3 linked regions of the Homo sapiens genome follow. The protein of the gene in region 1 purifies or fractionates together with the protein of each later gene. This does not show direct contact. Each region holds a gene or a part of one and is shown in the gene's direction. Other genes may lie near its edges.

Region 1 (5,194 bases):
TATTAAGAAGAAATGGTGTAAGGATTACATTTCAAGTTTTACTTCTTTATCAAAACTTGTCTATCCTATGTATCAACATCTTAATCATCTTGATTGGTATCTCCCTCTGCATCAACTTTTATTCTAAAAAATGTGGTTACAAAGTATTTATGTTTTATTTTATAAAGCACAGTAGGAATAAGTACTTGCACTGAAGCCCAGTTGCTGGGTTCAAATCCTGGATCTATCACTTACTGTAACAGTTCGCTTGGGGAAGTTAATGTCTGCTTTTGTAAAATTATGAAGATTATTAAATAAGCAATACAAAATACCACAAGAACTGCTATGTAGTATTTCCTAGACTTCCTTAAAGGCAGGTATTAAATTTTTAAATTCACCTTATGTCTTCAGTGTCTAGCATGCAGTAAGTATTTCTATGCATAGCAGGCACTCAACAACTTAAGGAATGTTCATTAGAAATAGCATAGCTAAGTTTCGAAGAGTTTTATTTTTTGAGAGCCTTGGGGTAGGAATCATTGATTATTTTTAAAAAAACTTTTTAAATTGATAATAATATGCATACCATGAAATTCACTTTGATAGTGTATAGTTGACTGGTTTTTAGTATATCTGAGTTGTACAGCCATCACATTTTCATTTCAGAACATTTCATCACCTCAGAAAACCTGTTAATAGTCACTCCCCATTCACCCCTGCCAAACACTAATGTTTTTGTCTCTAGATTTGCCTCTTCTGGACATTTCATATAAATGGAATCATTTAATATGTAAACCTTGTGTCTAGCTCCTTTCCTTTAATATGCTTTCAAGGTTCATACATTTTATATCATTTCTTTTTATGGCTGAATAATATTCCATTGTGTGGATATATTTTACTTATCCATTCGTCAGTTGATGGACTTTTAGGTTGTTCCCACTTCTTGGCTGTTAATGAATAATGCTGCTTTGAACATCTATAAAAAAGTTTTTGTACAGACATGTCTTCTGTTTGCTGGATATGTACAAGAGTGGAATTGTTGGGTCATATGGTATCTCTTTGAGGAACTGCATACTGTTTTCCAGTACCCTCTGATCTTAATATAAGTTGGTTTATCACTGAAGTCTCCAAGTCCACTTCCTCTAAAGAGATTTTAATGACAACAAAGTACTTCTTCACAAATTTCATCTAAAGTGTAAATGGCTTATGTGGTGGAGAATCTTTACCTATTTTTCCTGCCTACAGAATCTTCCTAAAAGGACTGTGTCACTGTGGTCTTACATAAACAGCCAGCTGGAAGACTTCACTAATCCTCTCTATGGGAGCTATTCCAATCATGTCCTTTATCCAGTAGCCAGCATGCGCCACCTAGAGCTCTGGGTGGGATATTACATAAGGTGGAATCCACGGATGAAACCACAGGTATGTGCCTTACAATATACAATGGGAGTTTTCATTCATGCAGTGCAACTTTGTCTCCTTAAAAGCAGCTGGAAAGATTATCTGTGCATATTTAAAACTTTACTCCTTACCCATTGATAGTTAACAATCGTATAGTAGAAAAATACTACACTGGGGCAGGGTAATCAGTATACCTGGTTCTTAGGACTGCTTGTATGACATTGGACAAATCACTGCTCTCTTTTCTTGCATCTTCCCTCCTCTGTCTGGATAACCTCTAGGGGGTCTTGTTTTAATAAGCTGAAGAAAGTAGCTTTAGGAAAGTTAAAAGCTGAACAAAATTCTGGTCTACTGTGAATATGTTTATGGAATATTAACTACTTAGAACTGTTTAAGACTAAAAACCTATAAATAACAGGGAATCTTCTGACTACTGTCTTTTAATTGTCTTGTTAATTATTTGTTGTATTTGGAAAAGTACCAGTTTCAGGAGCACCTACACAGCAGGTTATTCTTTGGAAATACTCAGGGGCACTGGGAAAGCCAGTGAAAAGATTAGTGGTGTCCACAGTCCCGGTATTTAATTTCACTGATGGGTTGGAAAGGTGCCATTGGTTCCAACAGCTGAAAAAACATACACTGCAACATTTAGGGAATGATTTGACCTGGCTTTGGTCAGGATTGCCTAGTTGAATATTTTATGTTTTGCTCTTGCAGGAACCTATTCACAACAGATACAAAGAACTTCTTGCTAAACGAGCAGAGCTTCAGAAAAAAGTAGAGGAACTACAGAGAGAGATTTCTAACCGATCAACCTCATCCTCAGAGAGAGCCAGCTCTCCTGCACAGTGTGTCACTCCTGTCCAAACTGTTGTATAAAGGACTGTAAGATCAGGGGCATCATTGCTATACACTCTTGATTACACTGGCAGCTCTATGAGTAGAAAGTCTTCGGAATTTAGAACCCATCTATGAGAGAAAGTTCAGTCACTTTATTTATTTTAAATCTCTCTAGGATGAGTTTAGAACTGTAGCAGTGCAGGTGGCTTAAGTGAAGTAACTCCATATGTAATTACATGATTATGATACTAATCTTTTAAGTATCCAAAGAATATTAAAATACTTCAATCCTGGATTCACAGTGGGAACAAGTTTCTATTAAAAGGCAAATGCTGTTACAAATTTTTGGCATCTGGTAATATTAAAACCATTTTAGAAATACACTCTGTGCTCACTGTGCAGAGGAACATCAGTTTTCAAACCAACACTGAAATTCTGTGGCATCACATATATTGGGCCTTGATGTCATGACAGATCAAAATCATTTGATATCCCTTTCTCCATTCTAGGTTTTTCTTTTTTTCAGTAACTGATTTACCTTGATCACTTTTCAACTTCCATATTCTTCATATAGTAAAAGGCAAAGTGTTGAAGATACTACGGTGTGGTAGTAGTTGAAAATTATTGCCGTCATTATTTACATACTTAAGACATATTAGCAAGTTGATCCAAAATGGGAGGCCTTATAGATGTGCTTGGGGGAAAATGAAGGGGAGAAAGTAGCCATACAGGAGTTCAAAGAATTCCATGCCCTTCAGATTAGCCCAATTACCAGAAACATCATGAAAGATATTTTAAAAACTAATTATTTACTACAGTGTATTTCACTTGTCTTGTGTGTCTGAACACACAGAAGCTAATTAGCAAGTTTTTAAGAAGTATTTAAAAATCTTACTAGGATTGACATTTTTTCTGAATTCTGTATAAATAGCTTATAGTGAGAAGTACTGTGCTCAAATTTTACATTTTTTTCCTTTGCAAATTCTGTAATTTCACTCAACGATTAAGTCTACCAAAGAACACACTGCATGTAAAAGATGTATTACAATCTCAAAGCCAGTAAAAGAAATCTTGCTTCACTGTTCACCTGCTACAAGTAAGAGTTTGGTGCTGGTAGAAACATTTGACTCTGATGTCTATTTTATTCTACATAAGAGCCATATGTAATGTACTGTAACAAAGGAGCTTCTTGTCCCCTTGGTCTTTTAATTAAAAGAAATTCCAACTGACTTTTAAACTTTGTTCTTGTCCAAAGTTGCCATTTCTTTTTTTTCCCCAGAAATATTTGGAAATTATTGGAGGAATATGCACCCCAGATGAAAATGTTCAGTTTGTACCCATTTTTCCTTAACCAACACCCAAATCAAACAATTAAAATATACAGTGTTTTTCCACTCACTAATTCACTATACAGAGAGTCTGAACCTTAGCCTCCCTCTTGGTCTTGCAGTGAGGAAGTTTCTATTAGTATATCCAATTTAGCAAAATTGGTACCAAAATGATTTCTTTGGTAATTGTGTGAAATATAAGCTTTTTAACAGGGCATTTAAGTGGCTAGCAAATCAGTAATTAAAAATTAAGCTTTCTACTCCAAGTATTTCACAAACGCATCTGCCATTTTCCTCATTTAAACCTTGGTTATCTTGGCCTGATACCACATAAAAGAATGTAGAATGGCTGAAGAGATCAAGAATTTAAAGCTTCTAGTCTTAACATACTTGCATCCACTTCAAATTCAAATCAAAAGCCAGGGAAATCTAAGTGCAACCCTACCACTTCTCTGCTGAGAACCTTCCAGTGGTTCCCCTCACCTTCTGCAGAAGTCTCCAATATGGAGTACATGCACTTGGGCATTTAATATATACCACTGGTGTGTGTGGGAGGGAGGGAGGAGGAATACTAGCCCTTTTTATATATTTACACAAGCAAAACTTTTAAATATTTGAATTGACAGTTACATGTTTCATAACTTTGTATGTCTATTGGTTGTGCAGGTGTAATTTTTTCCCTTTTTGATTAGGGTTACAAAATTTAGAGACCAGTATGATTAAGTTGAAGCTCCTTAGCCTCCTTCGACCTAGTCTCTGCATACCTCAACTTTTACGTACCAATGCTACTCTGCTGTTCACAATTGCCTCATGTAATCTGCAGATTCCTGCCTCCCCACTTTGGTTCAGTCTGTCTTGTGCACCTGGAACAACTGTTCTCCCTTGTGACTAATTCCTATTTTCTAGAGTTTAGGCATCATCTCTTCCTTTGGGAAGTTATCTGATTCACGACTGCCTTCTCTGACATCCCCACCTTCCTCTGTGCCCCCATAGCACTGTGTATACCGCTACTACCACTGCAATTCACATTATATTGGAATGAACAATTCACATGTCTACCACAAGTCTGTAAACATAACCTTATTTGAAATGAATTGCAATAAAGCTCTGTTACAACGTAAGTGGATGGATGACACATTCCTCTACTGTAAACTTGCAGATAAGAAAATGGAAGCAGTATTTTTTCACTTCTCACCTGACAGTACAAAAAGCTGGAGTAGTTCAGTTTGAATCCTAGCTGAGAAAAGGGGTGGGATTTAGCATCATTCAATCACCATTCTCCTAATTAGGACTCAGAGCCACTACAATTCAAATGATGGTTATACAATTTAATGACCTGAAATTCAAACAAGGAGATAACAGGAGTTTTTAATAGCTGAAATGGTGGTTGACACATATATTTATCATGTCACCAGAGCACTGTTTCTCACTTCCCTTGTGTCTATGGGCTCACAATTATTAATTCAATCAAGCTACGAACCTACTCATTAGAAAACTGGACACAGAAGCACAAGTTTACAATTTCAGGAGAGTCACAAATAATACCCCAAAATCTTAAGGATCCTAAATTAAAGCCTGTTACTGTAGTATCTTGTATCATGAGGAAATCTAATATTCTTGGGCTCTCTTTCTATGTAAGCATGAGTGTG
Region 2 (8,251 bases), about 86 Mb from region 1:
TTAGTAGAGACAGGGTTTCACCGTGTTAGCCAGGATGATCTCGATCTGCTGACCTCATGATCCGCCCAACTTGGCCTCCCAAAGTGCTGCGATTACAGGCGTGAGCCACCACACCTGGCCAGGACACTTTCTACGTCATCTATGAAGCCTTTTCTTTGCACCCCAAACACACACTCAAGGTAGAAATGGTGTGTTTGCTATACAAATTTAATTTTGAGACAGGTTCAATAACCTGCTTACTGTCCTTAACTTTTACCTATATAGAAAGTTTGAAACCATCGGTGAAGCTGGGAAAACAGTTAAGAACCTATTGCAATAATAAAGGTAGAAGGTGATAACGGCTCAAACTAGTGGGGTGGCAGTGAGGGTGGAGAGAAGCGGACATATTTGGGAAGTAGGAACAATAGGACTGAGTGATGAATGTGGGGCTGAGAGGCAGCTGTCAAGGGTAAGATTCATTAAATTTCTTGCTTAGGGAACTAAATGGTTGAAAATATAGCAATGGATCAGGGAATTTTCCACCACAGCTGCATAGTCTCCTTTGTTATGCTTTGGTAGAGACGATCTGAAGAGGCCTCAGCCCTGCCTGGTGATGTTTGCTCAAGTCTGACTCTCATACTGCCTCCTTGAACTACTGTGGCTAACCACAGCAAGCACTTGAAATGACTGTACAGATCAAACCACTTACTCCGCAATAGCCCACTAGGGGCAATGGGCTGATAAGCCTTGCTCACTGATAATTAGCTCTATTTTGTCTTTTTTAAAATTTTTTATTTTAATTTTTTGAACGGGAGTTTCACTCTTGTTGCCCAGGCTGGAGTGCAATGGCGCGATCTTGGCTCACTGCAACCTCTGCCTCCTGGGTTCAAGCAATTCTCTTGCCTCAGCCTCCCAAGTAGCTGGGATTACAGGCACCTGCCACCATGCCCAGCTAATTTTTGTGTTTTTAGTAGAGACAGGGTTTCACCATGTTGGTCAGGCTGGTCTTGAACTCCTGACCTTAGGTGATCCACCTGCCTCGGCCTCCCAAAGTGCTGGGATTACAGGTGTGAGCCACCGCATTCCATCTATTTCGTCTTCTAAAGCAAAAAAGAAAGGTATCTGCCACATACACATCATGATAGTGTTACATACCCTTCTTCCCTTCCTGCTCCCATCAGCCTTCAGGAAAACAAATCTGGGCTTGCTTTACTCTCTCTCTCTTTGGTGAAAGGTGATGGTGGTTATTGTAGGGGATGGTCTGGCTTTCAGCCAACCTCAGTAATCAGGCTGCCTTGTCAGGGCTTATCAGTTTCAACAGGCTGGCAGCTGTTGGCTGAGAAGCAAAGCACAGCTTTAGTGTATACAAAATATGTTCACATGTATATACAAACACACAGTGCCTTTCTACATGTACCTAGGATATGTTAAAATCTCTGTGTGACAAAATGGGCATTTGCAAATGGACTGGAAGTCTACTTATGACAGTAACAGATGAAATATGCCTAAAAGCAGAATAGCATTTGATTCTAGGCTTAAAAACAATAAACTTTGATTTTAAAAAATTAAAATAATTTAAATGAGTACTTGCAAATGAAATAAAAGCCAAGACATTTAAAAGGTAAAACAAGACCCCTTACCACTACAAAATTAACTCAAAATGGGTCAAAGTACTAAAGAGCTAAAACTATGAAGGAAACCAGTAAATCTTCATCTCACCTTTAATATGGCAATAATTTTTTAGATATAACACTAAAAGCATAGAAACAAACTAAAAAAGTGGACTTTATCAAAATTAAAAACTTTTTTGAGCCAAAGGACATTATCAAGAAAATGAAGTCTGGGTGTGGAAGCTCATGCCTCTAATCCTAGTACCTTGGGAGGGCTAGGTGGGAGGATTGCCTGAGGACAGGAGGTTAAGACCAGCCTGGGCAACATCATGATACAACATCTCTACATAAAAATAAAATGAAAAATAAAATAAAAATAGGAAATATTTGGGGGGGGGAATAGGGCATAACAATTTTAAAAAGAAAATGAAAAGACAACGTACAGAATGGGAAAATATCTGCAAATCATATATCTGACAAGGACTAGTATCCAGAATATATAAAGAACTCTTACAACTCAACCTCAAAAAGACAAAGAATCAATTAAAAAATGGGCAAAGGACTTGAATAGACATTTCTCCAAAGAAGATTTAGCAATGGCCAATAAACACATGAAAAGATCCTCAACATCATTAGTCTTTAGGGAAAGGCAAAACAGGACCACAATGAGATATCACTTCACACTAAGATAGCTATAACAAAACATAAACAACAGGAAAACAAGAGTTGACAAAGATGCAGAGAAATCAGAACCCTAGTGCATTGCTGGTGAAAATGTAAAATGATGCAGCCACTGTGGAAAACAGTAGTAACAGAACTACTTAATCCAGTAATTCCAATCCCAAGAATATATCCCCAAAATTGAAAACAGGTACTCAAATACATGTACATGCATGTTTGAAGCAGCACTATTCACAATGCCAAAAGGTGGAAACAACCCATATGTCCATATGGGTTGTTCCAGATAAACAAAATATGGTATATACATATGATATGGTTTGGCTGTGTCCTCACCCAAATTTCATCTTGAATTGTACCCCATAATTCCCACCTGTCATGGGAGGGATCCGGTGGAAGGTAATTGAATCATGGGGGCGGGTCTTTCTCCTGCTGTTGTGGTGATAGTGAATAAGTTTTATGAGATTTGATGGTATAAAGGAGAGTTCTGCATAAGCTCTCTTGTCTGCCGCTTTGCTCTCCTTGCCTTCCGCCATGTGGAACTGTGAGTCAATTAAACCTCTTCTCTTTATAAATTACCTAGTCTCGGGTATGTCTTTATTAGCACCGTGAGAACAGTCTAACACAATATACAATGGAATATTATTGAGTCATAAAAAATAATGAAGTATTGATACTTCAATGTGATGCTACAACCTTGTACTGTATCTGCCCGTAAACAAGCTGAGAACAATATACTAAGTGAGAAAAACCAAGACACAAAAAACCCACATATTGTATGATATGAATATGAAATATTCATAATAGGTAAATCCATAGAGACAGAAAGCAAAATGGTGATTGCCAGGGGCTGTGGGAGGGGAGAATGAGAATGACTGCTTAATGGTTGTGAGGTTTTCTTTTGGGTGATGAAAATGTTTTGTAACTAGATAGACATGGTAGTTGTACAGCATTGGGAATGTACTTAATTGCCACTGAATTCTACATTTTCAAGTGGCTAATTTTACAATATGTGAATTTTGCCCTATTTTTAGAAAAGTTGGGAAGGAATATGATAGCTGCCTTAAAAATCTATCATATGAAGATAGATTTTTTTTTTCTGGATAGTTCCGGAGAGCAGAATCAGGGGAAGTTACAGTAAGACAACTCTGAAATAATAAGGAAGAACTTTCTAACAATAGGGCTGTTAAACAGTGGAATGCGCTGCCTCCCAAGGAAGTAAGATTACTTTTTACTGAAAGTGATCAAGTTGGATGATGAGCTCTCAGGGAAGTTACAGAGAGGATTGCTGCACGGGGTATGACTGAGGTTTTTTTTTTTTTGGTTTAATTATTTTCAGGATCAAACTATCTTCCCTCCACGTTTGCAAATTCAGCTGATTCAGTTTTACCATTAGCAACTGACATAGAGGTCCTGGAGTTAAAGTATTCCTTCAGTTTCAGTTCTAGTGCAGCCCAACCCTCCCAATTTGTAGATGAAACAAGTGTGGCAGAGAAAGGGGAAATAGTAAATTACAGCAGAGTAAATCTTCAGGAGCTGAGATGTCAACTCTCTCAGTTCAGAGTTGGAGCCATTGCGGCTTCCTGCTGGTCGTTGGGGAAAATCGCACATTTACTCATTTAAAATATTTTGTAGGCACCTACTATATACTAGACGCTTTGCTAAGAGGCCTTGTCTTATGTGTAAATATGAAGGATCAAACCCTCAATTAATAGTGAGCAGTGATAAGCAACCACAAAGACAACTTCTAAACCACGGAGATTTCCAAAACTTTGGTCTACCACTTGTACAAATTCTACTAAAACTTCGTGAGATATTAACAAATGACAAAGTGAGTTCACCTGAATGTCACACCAGCCAAATTCGAAATGGTCAATAGGAGGTTCAACAAAAAAGCAAGCGACTTTGATAATCCCGAGACGGAAGGACGGGACCATCTATTCATTTTTGTGCATGTTTGAGCAGGGAAGTTGGAAGTCCACCTGCTCGGGCTGCGAGAGCCCTGGGACCGCTGCGAGGGAAGCAAGCCGAGGCGTGCGGGGCTCCCCAGGGAGAGGCCAGCCCAGTTCGGGAGGATCCCGGGGATGCCGCGTTCCTCGGTGGAATCTGGCTCTCCCGGGCGCTCCGGGGGAAGCCCAGGCCGACCGCCCCCGGCCCACCCGGCATTGAAACCCGAGGCTCCTTGGAGGATTGCGTAAAAGCCTCTCCCTCCCCCGTCTGCTCGGTGGCATGTTTCTAAAATTCCCATCTACACAACATAAACAGGAAACGTGCAGCAAAAGCCCTGTCGATGCAAATTCCTTGCTTCCAACCGAGGGCGGGAGAATTTCATCTTTGGTGGTGGTGGGGAGCAGAGGAAGCAGCCAGCTTTCCAAGTGACCCCTCAACTCTCCACATCCCTTCTTCCAAATCCAAACAGAATAGAGAAGGCGGAAGGAAGGACCCCCTGCTTTAGGAAAAATAGGGAGGCAGAGGGGGCCGTGAAGCAGCATCCAGGCCTCAAAGTGAACCACCTCCAGGGGCCGCGGTGGCGGCGCGTGGCGGGAACACGCCCGACCGCCCACTCCCCCAGCGCAGCAGTCCGCGAGGCCCGCGGAGGGTGGAGGTGGGCTCGCCGCCCGGGCTTGGGGCAGCCGAGCCAGCGCGGGTGGGGGCGGGGGAGGAGCGGGCACTAGGCGCCGCGCAAGCGCAGAGCGCGCCTCGGTTGTCAAACATGGCTGAAGCGCTGCCGCTGCCGCTACTGCCGCTGCAGGGAAAATGCTGAGCCCTCCCGGGCCGGGTGGGCGGCGGCGGCGAGGGCGGCGACGGGGACCCGCTTCCCGAGCGCGGCGGCGGCGGCCATGGCCCGGCTGGCTGACTACTTCATCGTGGTAGGCTATGACCACGAGAAGCCAGGTAAGGGTGTGGGGCGGCACCGCCCCCGGGCCTCCCCGCCCCCCGGCCGCTGTCCAGTGGGCTCCGCGGGGCCGGGCGTCGGGGACGGGCGTCGGGGAGGGCCAGGCCGAGTCTCGGAGGAGCGGGCGGTCGGCGTCCGGCCTTCTCGGCTGGGCTGAGCCTGGCGGTGGGCGTGGGGGGGCCGGCACGACGGTAGGGGGAGGGAAGACGCCGCGTCTGCCCAGCCCCTGGGCGCACCCGCTGGGCGGGCCGGAGGCGAGTTGGGGTCTCGCGACCCTCCCGCTGGAGGCTGCAGGGTACCCGGGGCAGAGAGAGCCCTGAGATTGGGCCCAGGACCGCAAGGCTGGGAGGGCGGGAGCCAACTGTGCTAAGTTCCTCGGGGATAAACTTCTGCCCTGCATCCTGAGTGAGTAACCAGTGACGCAGGGGGTTGTCCTCTCCGAAAGGAAGTGCTGAGAGTCCAGTGCTAACTCACCCCTGTGCTGTTGGGGGCCTAGTGACCTCCCCAAGGAACGCGTGGTACCAGGGAAGGGGACAGGATTCTTTGCACTTTTACCCCTTTCTAGGAAATGCTCCCTATTCTTTCAGGACAAATGTGACGGTCACTTCACAGTGACATGACTTGTCTTTTAACTAAGGACAGCCAGCTGACCGCTGAAGGTGATCTTGTTTCACTTTAATGTGTTTTCATTGTTCTTTTTATTTGTCACAGAATTTTCGTCGTAAGGAACAATTGGGCAAATGCATTGTATTTTACACTTTAATTGACGGACTTCCACAACTTAAGAGAATTCAGGGTTCATGCACGTTTATTTCTGTATTTGTATTCTCTTGTATTACTATGTAGCTAAGCATAATGTAATAACAAATTGAGCTGGGAAACCACTTCTATTTTAGGGCAATTCTAGTCCCACATTTGCAAGGAATTTGAGATATCAGCTCTACAGCCCCTTCATTTTTCAGAGATGCTGAGATTGTGTTTTCCTGATGGTTACAGCCATTGGTAGCTCAGAATACCATTGTTCTACCCACTCTTGGTCCACTCTCTCTTTCATTATTCCTCTCCTAAGAACTTCCTCTCCTTTAGTGGGAACCTTTCATGTTCTTTTCTCTTTCACCAGTCATGACCTGATTGAGGTCAATTGTTAAAGAGAAAGTTTAAATGTTTAAACTTCTGGATCCAAAATTTTATTTCCTAGTAATTTGGCATAGTCTGATGTTTCTTTTCTATCAAGATTAAGTGTGGGAAATCAGTTTTTTAACCTTTAGTTTTTAGTGACATTGTTCCGCCTCCCCCCCTCCCCACTTTTAAACAATTTTTTTTTTTTTTTTTTTTGAGACGGAGTTTTGCTCTGTTGCCCACGCTGGAGTGCAGTGGTGCGATCTTGGCTCACTGCAACCTCTGTCTCCCGGGTTGAAGCAATTCTCTGCCTCAGCCTCCGGAGTAGCTGGGATTTACAGGCGCCCGCCAACACGCCCGCTAATTTTTGTATTTGTAGTAGAGACGGGATTTCACCATCCTGGCCAGGCTGGTCTTGAACTCCTGATCTCGTGATCCACCGGCCTCGGCCTCCCAAAGTGCTGGGATTACAGGCTTGAGCCACCACGCCCGGCCAACAATGTTGAAACAATAACAGACTTGCAAAAAAGTTGCAAGAATGGTACAAAAAATTCTACCCGCCCCCCAACAATTTGAGAGGAAGCTGTTGACCTGATGCCCTGTCATCCCAGAATACTTTAATGTGCATTTTCTGCAAACAAGAATGTTCTCCTACATGATCACAGTGTAATAACCAAAACAGGAAATGGATAGTGATACAGTACTCCATCTAGTTCTCAGACTGGTTCAAGTTTTGTTGATTGTGCTAGTAATCTCTTTACTGGCAAAAGGATCCAGTTTAGCAATATGTGTTGCATTCATGTTATGTCTCTTTTGTCTCCCTCAATCTGGAACATTTCCTTTATCTTCTCCTGACTTTCATGACCTTAACATATTTAACAATTACAGGTCAGTCACTTTGTAGGCTGCCCCCTCAATTTGGGATTGTCTGTTCCTTCATGATTAGATACATACGAATATGCACGTGGGAAGGATATCACAGAAGTGATGCTCACTGCATCCTGTCAGGTGGTGCACAATTTCACTTTGTTTCATTGTTGGTTATTTTTACTTTGATTACTTGATATAAGTAATATCTGCGAGGCTTCTCCACTGTAAAGTTAATACTTAATTGTTTTTGCCATGTACTTTGAAACTATGTAAATATCTTGTTCCTCACTAAACTCTTAATCATTTATTGACATCTACATGGAGTCTGTGTGTGTGTGTGTGTGTGTGTGTGTGTGTGTGTGTGTGTTTAGTGGATTATATTCTGTTACTATTTGCCTTAGTCTATTCGGAAAAAGTCACTAGCCCACCTGCCCGAAGCACTGGCTTGAGTGGGAAATAGGAGAGTCTAAGCACATCCAGCCGAAGTGAGACCAGAAAGGGGAGCTCGCGGATTATATTCTGTTACTATTTGCCTTAGTCCATTCGGGCTGTTATAACAAAAATACCTCAAACTGGGTGGCTTATAAACAATAGAAATTTATTTTTCACAGTCTGGAGGCAGAGAAATCCAAGATGAAGACTCTGACAGATTCAGTGTCTGGTGAGGACATGCTTCCTCATAGCCATGTTCTCACTTTAACCTCATATGGCTTAAGGGTCAAATGAGCTCTCTGGGGTCTCTTTAAAAAGGGAACTAATCCCATTCACAAGGACTCCACCACCATGACCTGATCACTTCCTAAAGGCCTCACCTCATAATACCATCACTTTGGGTGTTAGGATTTTAACATACGAATTTTGGGAGGGGACATACACATTCAGACTATAGCATTATTTATTTTGATGTTCAAATTGTTCTTTATATGGCCAATGAGAGTTGTACAAGCTGGCTTCTGTGTTCTTATGGTACATCCCCATCACTCTTTGAGAACAACTTTGTACTTTTTGGCACAAGAACCTGTTCCTGGCTCATCTTGTACTTTCCATGCCTTGGTTCTGTAATCAGCCATTTAGGGATCCCTGGTTCCTTTTAGTGGAG
Region 3 (7,068 bases), on another chromosome or scaffold:
GGTAGAGGACGATTTCCTGATGAAGGTGCTGGAGGGCATGGCCTTTGCTGGCTTTGTGTCAGAGCGTGGGGTCCCATACCGCCCTACGGACCTGTTCGATGAGGTGCACCTCCACCCTGCCCTCCCAGCCCCCTGCCCTGGCTCCGCCTGACCATGGCTTACCTAACCTCCTGCTTACCCCGCTAGCTGGTGGCCCACGAGGTGGCAAGGATGCGGGCGGATGAGAACCACCCCCAGCGTGTCCTGCGTCACGTCCAGGAACTGGCAGAGCAGCTCTACAAGAACGTACGAGGGTAGCAGGACGGGAGGGCGTCGTACCGCCTTGATCCCTGGGCCCCTGCCCCACACCTGCCGTCTCCCCACAGGAGAACCCGTACCCAGCCGTGGCGATGCACAAGGTACAGAGGCCCGGTGAGAGCAGCCACCTGCGACGGGTGCCCCGACCCTTCCCCCGGCTGGATGAGGGCACCGTGCAGTGGATCGTGGACCAGGCTGCAGCCAAGATGCAGGGTGCACCCCCAGCTGTGAAGGCCGAGAGGAGGACCACCGTGCCCTCAGGGCCCCCCATGAGTGCGTAATGAGGGAGGGGAAGGCAGGCCCCGAGCGTGGCCCAGGATGGGCGTGGGGTCAGGGGTCCGAGTGTGTGTATTCTGTCCCCGCAGCTGCCATACTGGAGCGGTGCAGTGGGCTGCATGTCAACAGCGCCCGGCGGCTGGAGGTTGTGCGCAACTGCATCTCCTACGTGTTTGAGGGGAAAATGCTTGAGGCCAAGAAGGTGAGGGCTGTGCAGGCTCCAGCCGGGCCAGGGCAGCGGGTTTCAGAGGAGACCCAGGCTGCACTTCACCCTTGTGAGTGCTGACGCTGCCCCAGGGCCTCCTCTGCCTAACAGACAGCTAGAGGTGGCTGGGCTGGCCGGAGGGTAGGTGGGCTCCAGGTCTCCTCTCTTGACCTCAGTGAGGGGTGGGTCGGGCCTGCGCGGGAGACCCAGCCAGGGAGATGTACTTCCATTTTTAGAAATCAGAAGGTTTCACTATTATGTTTCGTCTGTGTCCTTCCCCTTAAATTGGGTAGGCCCATACACGACCTGTTCTTTGTACTTGATGGAAAACAGAGCTTGCTCCCTCCATACGTGACCTGTTCCTTGCATCTTATGGAAACAGAGCTTTTTGCTCCTGCTGTTTTGCTCTCTGTGGTGCTCACTTAACGCCTCTGGGGTCTTTCATCATGGCCAGTTGGAGACTCTTGTTTTTCATTGGCTGTATGGTGTCCCTTTGGGGCGGCCAGTTTTGTGATGAACGTTGTAGCAATAGAACGCAAACTCCAAGGCTTTCTGTGGCCGGGCCTGTGCCAGGCGAGTCACTGAGCCAGCCAGGCAGCTGTGAGCCTGTGAGCAAGGGGGCCCGGCCCGCAAGGCCTCCCTCCGGAGCGCACCTCCCTGCCAGCTCACAGGTGCAGCATCTGCGTCCTTGTGTCTGGCCTGGTGAACTTGTACTTGTGGAGTTGTCGGGCCCACTGGAGGTTTTAGTCTTTATTGGTCGGCAAAGCCCCAGAGTCTGGCACACCCCACCTGAAAGGCATTTGGGTCTCCTGGACACCTGCTGCCCTCCCTGCCAGGGCCCCGAGTGGGTCTTCTCTGTGCCCTCAGCCCGTGTCTCCTTTCCCCACCCCCAGCTGCTCCCAGCCGTGTTGAGGGCCCTGAAGGGGCGAGCTGCCCGCCGCTGCCTCGCCCAGGAGCTGCACCTGCATGTGCAGCAGAACCGTGCGGTCCTGGACCACCAGCAGTTTGACTTTGTCGTCCGTATGATGAACTGCTGCCTGCAGGTGAGGCCTCTTATCCTGCTAGTGACATGGCTCATGGCGCATGAGCGGGAACAGGCGGGCAGACCCTGGTCTGTGAGTGAGAGTGGAGAGACGGTGCAAGAGACTCCTGTGCCAGTGGGCAGGGGTCCTCGGTCTGCAGGGAACAGGGTGGAGAGAACCATTGTTGGGGGCAGGTGCTGGGGCCTGGGGTCTCCTGATATTGAGCCTCTGAGGCAGCCTTGGGGAGCTGGAGCCAAGGGTGTCAGGTGCTGGTCTGTGGTGGTTATGGGGTGGTGGGGGCATGGTGGGAGGTGAGTGCTGCCTGGGAGGGGAGAGGTCCTGACGGTCTCTCGCTCTACCTGCAGGACTGCACTTCTCTGGACGAGCATGGCATTGCGGCGGCTCTGCTGCCTCTGGTCACAGCCTTCTGCCGGGTGAGTGCTGGCATGGCTGAGGTCTCCTTCCCAGCCCCCCCTTCCTGGTGGCTGAGGTCTCCTTCCCAGCCCCCCTTCCTGGTGGCCGAGGTCTCCTTCCCAGCCGCCCTTCCTGGCTGCATCCAGCTGACCTTCTCCCCTGGCTCCTGCAGAAGCTGAGCCCGGGGGTGACGCAGTTTGCATACAGCTGTGTGCAGGAGCACGTGGTGTGGAGCACGCCACAGTTCTGGGAGGCCATGTTCTATGGGGATGTGCAGACTCACATCCGGGCCCTCTACCTGGAGCCCACGGAGGACCTGGCCCCCGCCCAGGTGCGCAGGGACTCCCTGGGCTGGGGGCTGGGGGCTAGGGGCTGGGGCAGCGTGGCCCCGGCTCATGCGTGTGGTGCCGTGGCAGGAGGTTGGGGAGGCACCTTCCCAGGAGGACGAGCGCTCTGCCCTAGACGTGGCTTCTGAGCAGCGGCGCTTGTGGCCAACTCTGAGTCGTGAGAAGCAGCAGGAGCTGGTGCAGAAGGAGGAGAGCACGGTGTTCAGCCAGGCCATCCACTATGCCAACCGCATGAGCTACCTCCTCCTGCCCCTGGACAGCAGCAAGAGCCGCCTACTTCGGGAGCGTGCCGGGCTGGGCGACCTGGAGAGCGCCAGCAACAGCCTGGTCACCAACAGGTGAGGCAGGGACTGGGGGTTGGGCCCAGTGGAGGCGGGGCCGTGGTGGGCAGGGCCCATGCCCACAGTTTCTTCTCTGGCCCAGCATGGCTGGCAGTGTGGCCGAGAGCTATGACACGGAGAGCGGCTTCGAGGATGCAGAGACCTGCGACGTAGCTGGGGCTGTGGTCCGCTTCATCAACCGCTTTGTGGACAAGGTCTGCACGGAGAGTGGGGTCACCAGCGACCACCTCAAGGGGCTGCATGTCATGGTGCCAGGTACGGGGGTTTGGGCTGGTGATTCCCCCTTGGATGGGTGGGGCTGGGCACAAAGTGTGAGAACTGTCTTCCCCCAGACATTGTCCAGATGCACATCGAGACCCTGGAGGCCGTGCAGCGGGAGAGCCGGAGGCTGCCGCCCATCCAGAAGGTTTGCGGGGGCCGTTGGGGCTGCGGGGGCCCAAGGCCCGGGCTGCATCCTGAGCTCCTGCTCTTGTTTTCGAGCAGCCCAAGCTGCTGCGGCCGCGCCTGCTGCCGGGTGAGGAGTGTGTGCTGGACGGCCTGCGCGTCTACCTGCTGCCGGATGGGCGTGAGGAGGGCGCGGGGGGCAGTGCTGGGGGACCAGCATTGCTCCCAGCTGAGGGCGCCGTCTTCCTCACCACGTACCGGGTCATCTTCACGGGGATGCCCACGGACCCCCTGGGTGAGCCTGCAGACTCTCTGGCCCTGTCGCCCCCTCTCCCCCAGGTCTTTGGGATGGATGGGCTTTCCCTGCCTCCCTCTCCCTTTTCTCGGGGGTTCTGGGTGCCCGTGGGAAACGGGCCTTTGTCTGCTCCTTCCCCACCCACTTGGGATTCCCCATAACTGTGGTACCCTGAGATTCTGGGACCCCCCCCCCCTTACCTTCCTTGCTTCTGACTCTGCCTGGCCTGTCCTAAGTTGGGGAGCAGGTGGTGGTCCGCTCCTTCCCGGTGGCTGCGCTGACCAAGGAGAAGCGCATCAGCGTCCAGACCCCTGTGGACCAGCTCCTGCAGGACGGGCTCCAGCTGCGCTCCTGCACATTCCAGGTGGGGCGCGGTGCGCGGGTGGGGCTCTCATCCCCCGCCCTGGTCTTTCTCCTGCAAACCGGTCTTTCTTGTATGAACCATTTTTAGGCCAGTCTCCAGCAGTGGCCCTGTTGTTACGCTTGCATGTCTGGGGCCCTCACTGTGGCTCTTGAGTTGATGTCCACTGTTTGATGTGCGGTCTTTGGGTCCTTGTCCTTTCCTTGGGGCGCCGGCCCTCAAGTCCGTGTCTTGGGTGTGCCTTGCAAACCCAGGCCTCAGCTCACAGCCACTGAGATTTCGAGTTTACACAAGCGCTTGCCTTCGTGTGACACAGATACAGGCCTTTGCCTGGGGCCTGCTTCTCTCTCTGTCATGGCTGCGAGGGGAAGGGGAGCCTGGCAGTGTCAGAGTTGGGGGAGGGGCTGGGGGGCCACCCACACCCCTAAGGGCTGCTTTTACTGACACAGCTGCTGAAAATGGCCTTTGACGAGGAGGTGGGGTCTGACAGCGCCGAGCTCTTCCGTAAGCAGCTGCATAAGCTGCGGTACCCGCCGGACATCAGGGCCACCTTTGCGTTCACCTTGGGCTCTGCCCACACACCTGGCCGGCCACCGCGAGTCACCAAGGACAAGGGTCCTTCCCTCAGGTATGGATCTGGGTCCCAGGCAGGGCAGCTGGGCCTCAGCCGTGTTCCCGCTCCAACCCTCCTAGGCCCCTGTGCTCATCTTTGTCCCTCCTCCTCTCACCTTTGCTGACTCTCGTGGGCCTCAGAACCCTGTCCCGGAACCTGGTCAAGAACGCCAAGAAGACCATCGGGCGGCAGCATGTCACTCGCAAGAAGTACAACCCCCCCAGCTGGGAGCACCGGGGCCAGCCGCCCCCTGAGGACCAGGAGGACGAGATCTCAGGTGGAGGGGTGGGGGTGGAGTCCTGGGTGGTCTCTGGATGCTGACATTGGCCAGGGAGGATCAGGGCAGGCGGAGTGGCCCCGTGATGACCACGTGTGCCCGGCCTGTGCAGTGTCGGAGGAGCTGGAGCCCAGCACGCTGACCCCGTCCTCAGCCCTGAAGCCCTCCGACCGCATGACCATGAGCAGCCTGGTGGAAAGGGCTTGCTGTCGCGACTACCAGCGCCTCGGTCTGGGCACCCTGAGCAGCAGCCTGAGCCGGGCCAAGTCTGAGCCCTTCCGCATTTCTCCGGTCAACCGCATGTATGCCATCTGCCGCAGGTGAGGGCCGGCCAGGGCTGGCCCGGGTGGTGGACACGTGACTGGGTGTCTTCCCTGCCCGCTGTGGGCCTGGGCCACGGCTTCTGGTCATGTAAGGAATGTGGAGGGGGAGACTCCGGGCAGAGGGACGGGCCACAGGGCTGGGGGGTGGCTGGGGGGCCCCGTGGCTGAGCTGGAAGCGCCTCCTGCTGGGAGCCATGGGCTGGCTCCTCTTGCCCTGCTTGGGGCGTGAGCCTGGAGGCGGGTGGGGTCGCCAGCCACCTTCACGCCTCTGCCTCCTCTCAGCTACCCAGGGCTGCTGATCGTGCCCCAGAGTGTCCAGGACAACGCCCTGCAGCGCGTGTCCCGCTGCTACCGCCAGAACCGCTTCCCCGTGGTCTGCTGGCGCAGCGGGCGGTCCAAGGCGGTGCTGCTGCGCTCTGGAGGCCTGCATGGCAAAGGTGTCGTCGGCCTCTTCAAGGCCCAGAACGCACCTTCTCCAGGTACCTCCTGCGTCCTGCCCTGTGCCTGCCCTGCCCTATCTCACCCTCCCCTCCCTCAGCTCCGTGTCCTCCCCCAGGCCAGTCCCAGGCGGACTCGAGTAGCCTGGAGCAGGAGAAGTACCTGCAGGCTGTGGTCAGCTCCATGCCCCGCTACGCCGACGCGTCGGGACGCAACACGCTTAGCGGCTTCTCCTCAGCCCACATGGGCAGTCACGGTGAGGGTGCTTGTGGGCAGACGGTGGGGCAGGGGCACTTTGGGGGGCCGTGGTGGCATTTATGGTTTGGCAGGCAGGCCAGGGAGGAGCAGAAACGGCGCTGGTCATGGATGTTTGGGTGTGGGATGAGGAGCATGCCCTCCGGGTGCCGTGGGGCAGGGGCGGGAAGCCTGTCCAGACCAAGTGTGTGCCCAGACCAGGTGTGTGCCCTGACCTCCTGCCCGCCCTGACGTCCTGCCCGCTCTCCACCTCTGCGTCTGCTGCAGCTTCCTGTAGGGTCCTCCGGGTGCTGCCTCTACGCGGCTCTGTCTTACCATTTCCCACAGCCTGGAAACATCCCAGATGCTCCTCTGTCCTGTTCCCTCCCAGTGTCACTGTTTTTCCTCATCCCCCACACTCCACCCTCCCTGCATCCCCCAATCCAGACTGTCTTTGGAGCCTCTGGCCTGGCTCTGCCTGCAGCTTGGCCTCTGTCCTCGTGTGTCCTGGTTCCTTGGGCCTTGCCCGAGCTGGCCTTGCTGTCTCTGTCCCCACCGCCACGCACACTTCACAGGCGCCCTGCACACACTGAGCTAGACTGGCCCCAGGACGGGGTGGCAGATAGGCCCCACACTCACTCCTGTGTCCGGACCACCTGTTCTCTAGTTCAGAAGTGGTTTTGTTTTTCCAGATACCACATTATATACTTACATTTTACAATCGCCCTGTCTTGCTGCCTTCCCACCCCTGCCAGAAACCCTGAGTGGCATTTGCAGGTGGGGCCGCCCCTGCACCCCCCATGCCTGTGCTTCCCACAGAGTCCCTTTTGCGTCTCCGACCATCCCCAGTGCCAGTGGCTGCTGCCTCCCCGTGTCCCCCTCAGTGCCCAGCAATGCTCAGGGGCTCAAGCTTCACTCAGCTGTAGTCGTGGCTTCTAGTCCCAGCCCTGACCTTTTTTTTTTTTTTTTTTTGAGTCGGAGTCTTTCTCTGTCACCCACGCTGGAGTGCGGTGGTGCGATCTCGGCTCACTGCAAGCTCCACCTCCCAGGTTCACGCCATTCTCCTGCCTCAGCCTCCCGAGTAGCTGGGACTACAGGTGCCCGCCACCGCGCCCGGCTGATTTTTTTGTATTGTATTTTTAGTAGAGACAGGGTTTTACCGTGTTAGCCAGGATGATCTCGATCTCCTGACCTGGTGATCCGCCCGCCTCGGCCTCCCAAAGTGCTGGGATTACAGGCGT

The links.
Region 2: the proteins of MTMR2 (region 1) and SBF2 purify together in Homo sapiens (affinity purification with mass spectrometry; 3 studies listed by BioGRID and IntAct, with this or other methods). This does not show direct contact.
Region 3: the proteins of MTMR2 (region 1) and SBF1 purify together in Homo sapiens (affinity purification with mass spectrometry; 6 studies listed by BioGRID and IntAct, with this or other methods). This does not show direct contact.

What each region holds. Positions count from the first base shown.
Region 1 is NC_000011.10:95,832,352-95,837,545, reverse strand, and holds the end of MTMR2 (phosphatidylinositol-3,5-bisphosphate 3-phosphatase MTMR2), read left to right. Parts: intron 1-1,221; coding exon 1,222-1,398; intron 1,399-2,094; coding exon 2,095-2,256; 3' UTR 2,257-4,666; downstream 4,667-5,194. UniProt on the Homo sapiens protein: Lipid phosphatase that specifically dephosphorylates the D-3 position of phosphatidylinositol 3-phosphate and phosphatidylinositol 3,5-bisphosphate, generating phosphatidylinositol and phosphatidylinositol 5-phosphate.
Region 2 is NC_000011.10:10,290,926-10,299,176, reverse strand, and holds the start of SBF2 (myotubularin-related protein 13), read left to right. Parts: upstream 1-4,957; 5' UTR 4,958-5,107; coding exon 5,108-5,162; intron 5,163-8,251. UniProt on the Homo sapiens protein: Guanine nucleotide exchange factor (GEF) which activates RAB21 and possibly RAB28. Promotes the exchange of GDP to GTP, converting inactive GDP-bound Rab proteins into their active GTP-bound form.
Region 3 is NC_000022.11:50,458,036-50,465,103, reverse strand, and holds part of SBF1 (myotubularin-related protein 5), read left to right. Parts: coding exon 1-103; intron 104-186; coding exon 187-285; intron 286-365; coding exon 366-570; intron 571-662; coding exon 663-775; intron 776-1,671; coding exon 1,672-1,821; intron 1,822-2,165; coding exon 2,166-2,234; intron 2,235-2,386; coding exon 2,387-2,545; intron 2,546-2,630; coding exon 2,631-2,899; intron 2,900-2,984; coding exon 2,985-3,157; intron 3,158-3,234; coding exon 3,235-3,308; intron 3,309-3,385; coding exon 3,386-3,581; intron 3,582-3,817; coding exon 3,818-3,945; intron 3,946-4,391; coding exon 4,392-4,570; intron 4,571-4,695; coding exon 4,696-4,832; intron 4,833-4,944; coding exon 4,945-5,152; intron 5,153-5,437; coding exon 5,438-5,634; intron 5,635-5,711; coding exon 5,712-5,849; intron 5,850-7,068. UniProt on the Homo sapiens protein: Acts as an adapter for the phosphatase MTMR2 to regulate MTMR2 catalytic activity and subcellular location. Promotes the exchange of GDP to GTP, converting inactive GDP-bound Rab proteins into their active GTP-bound form.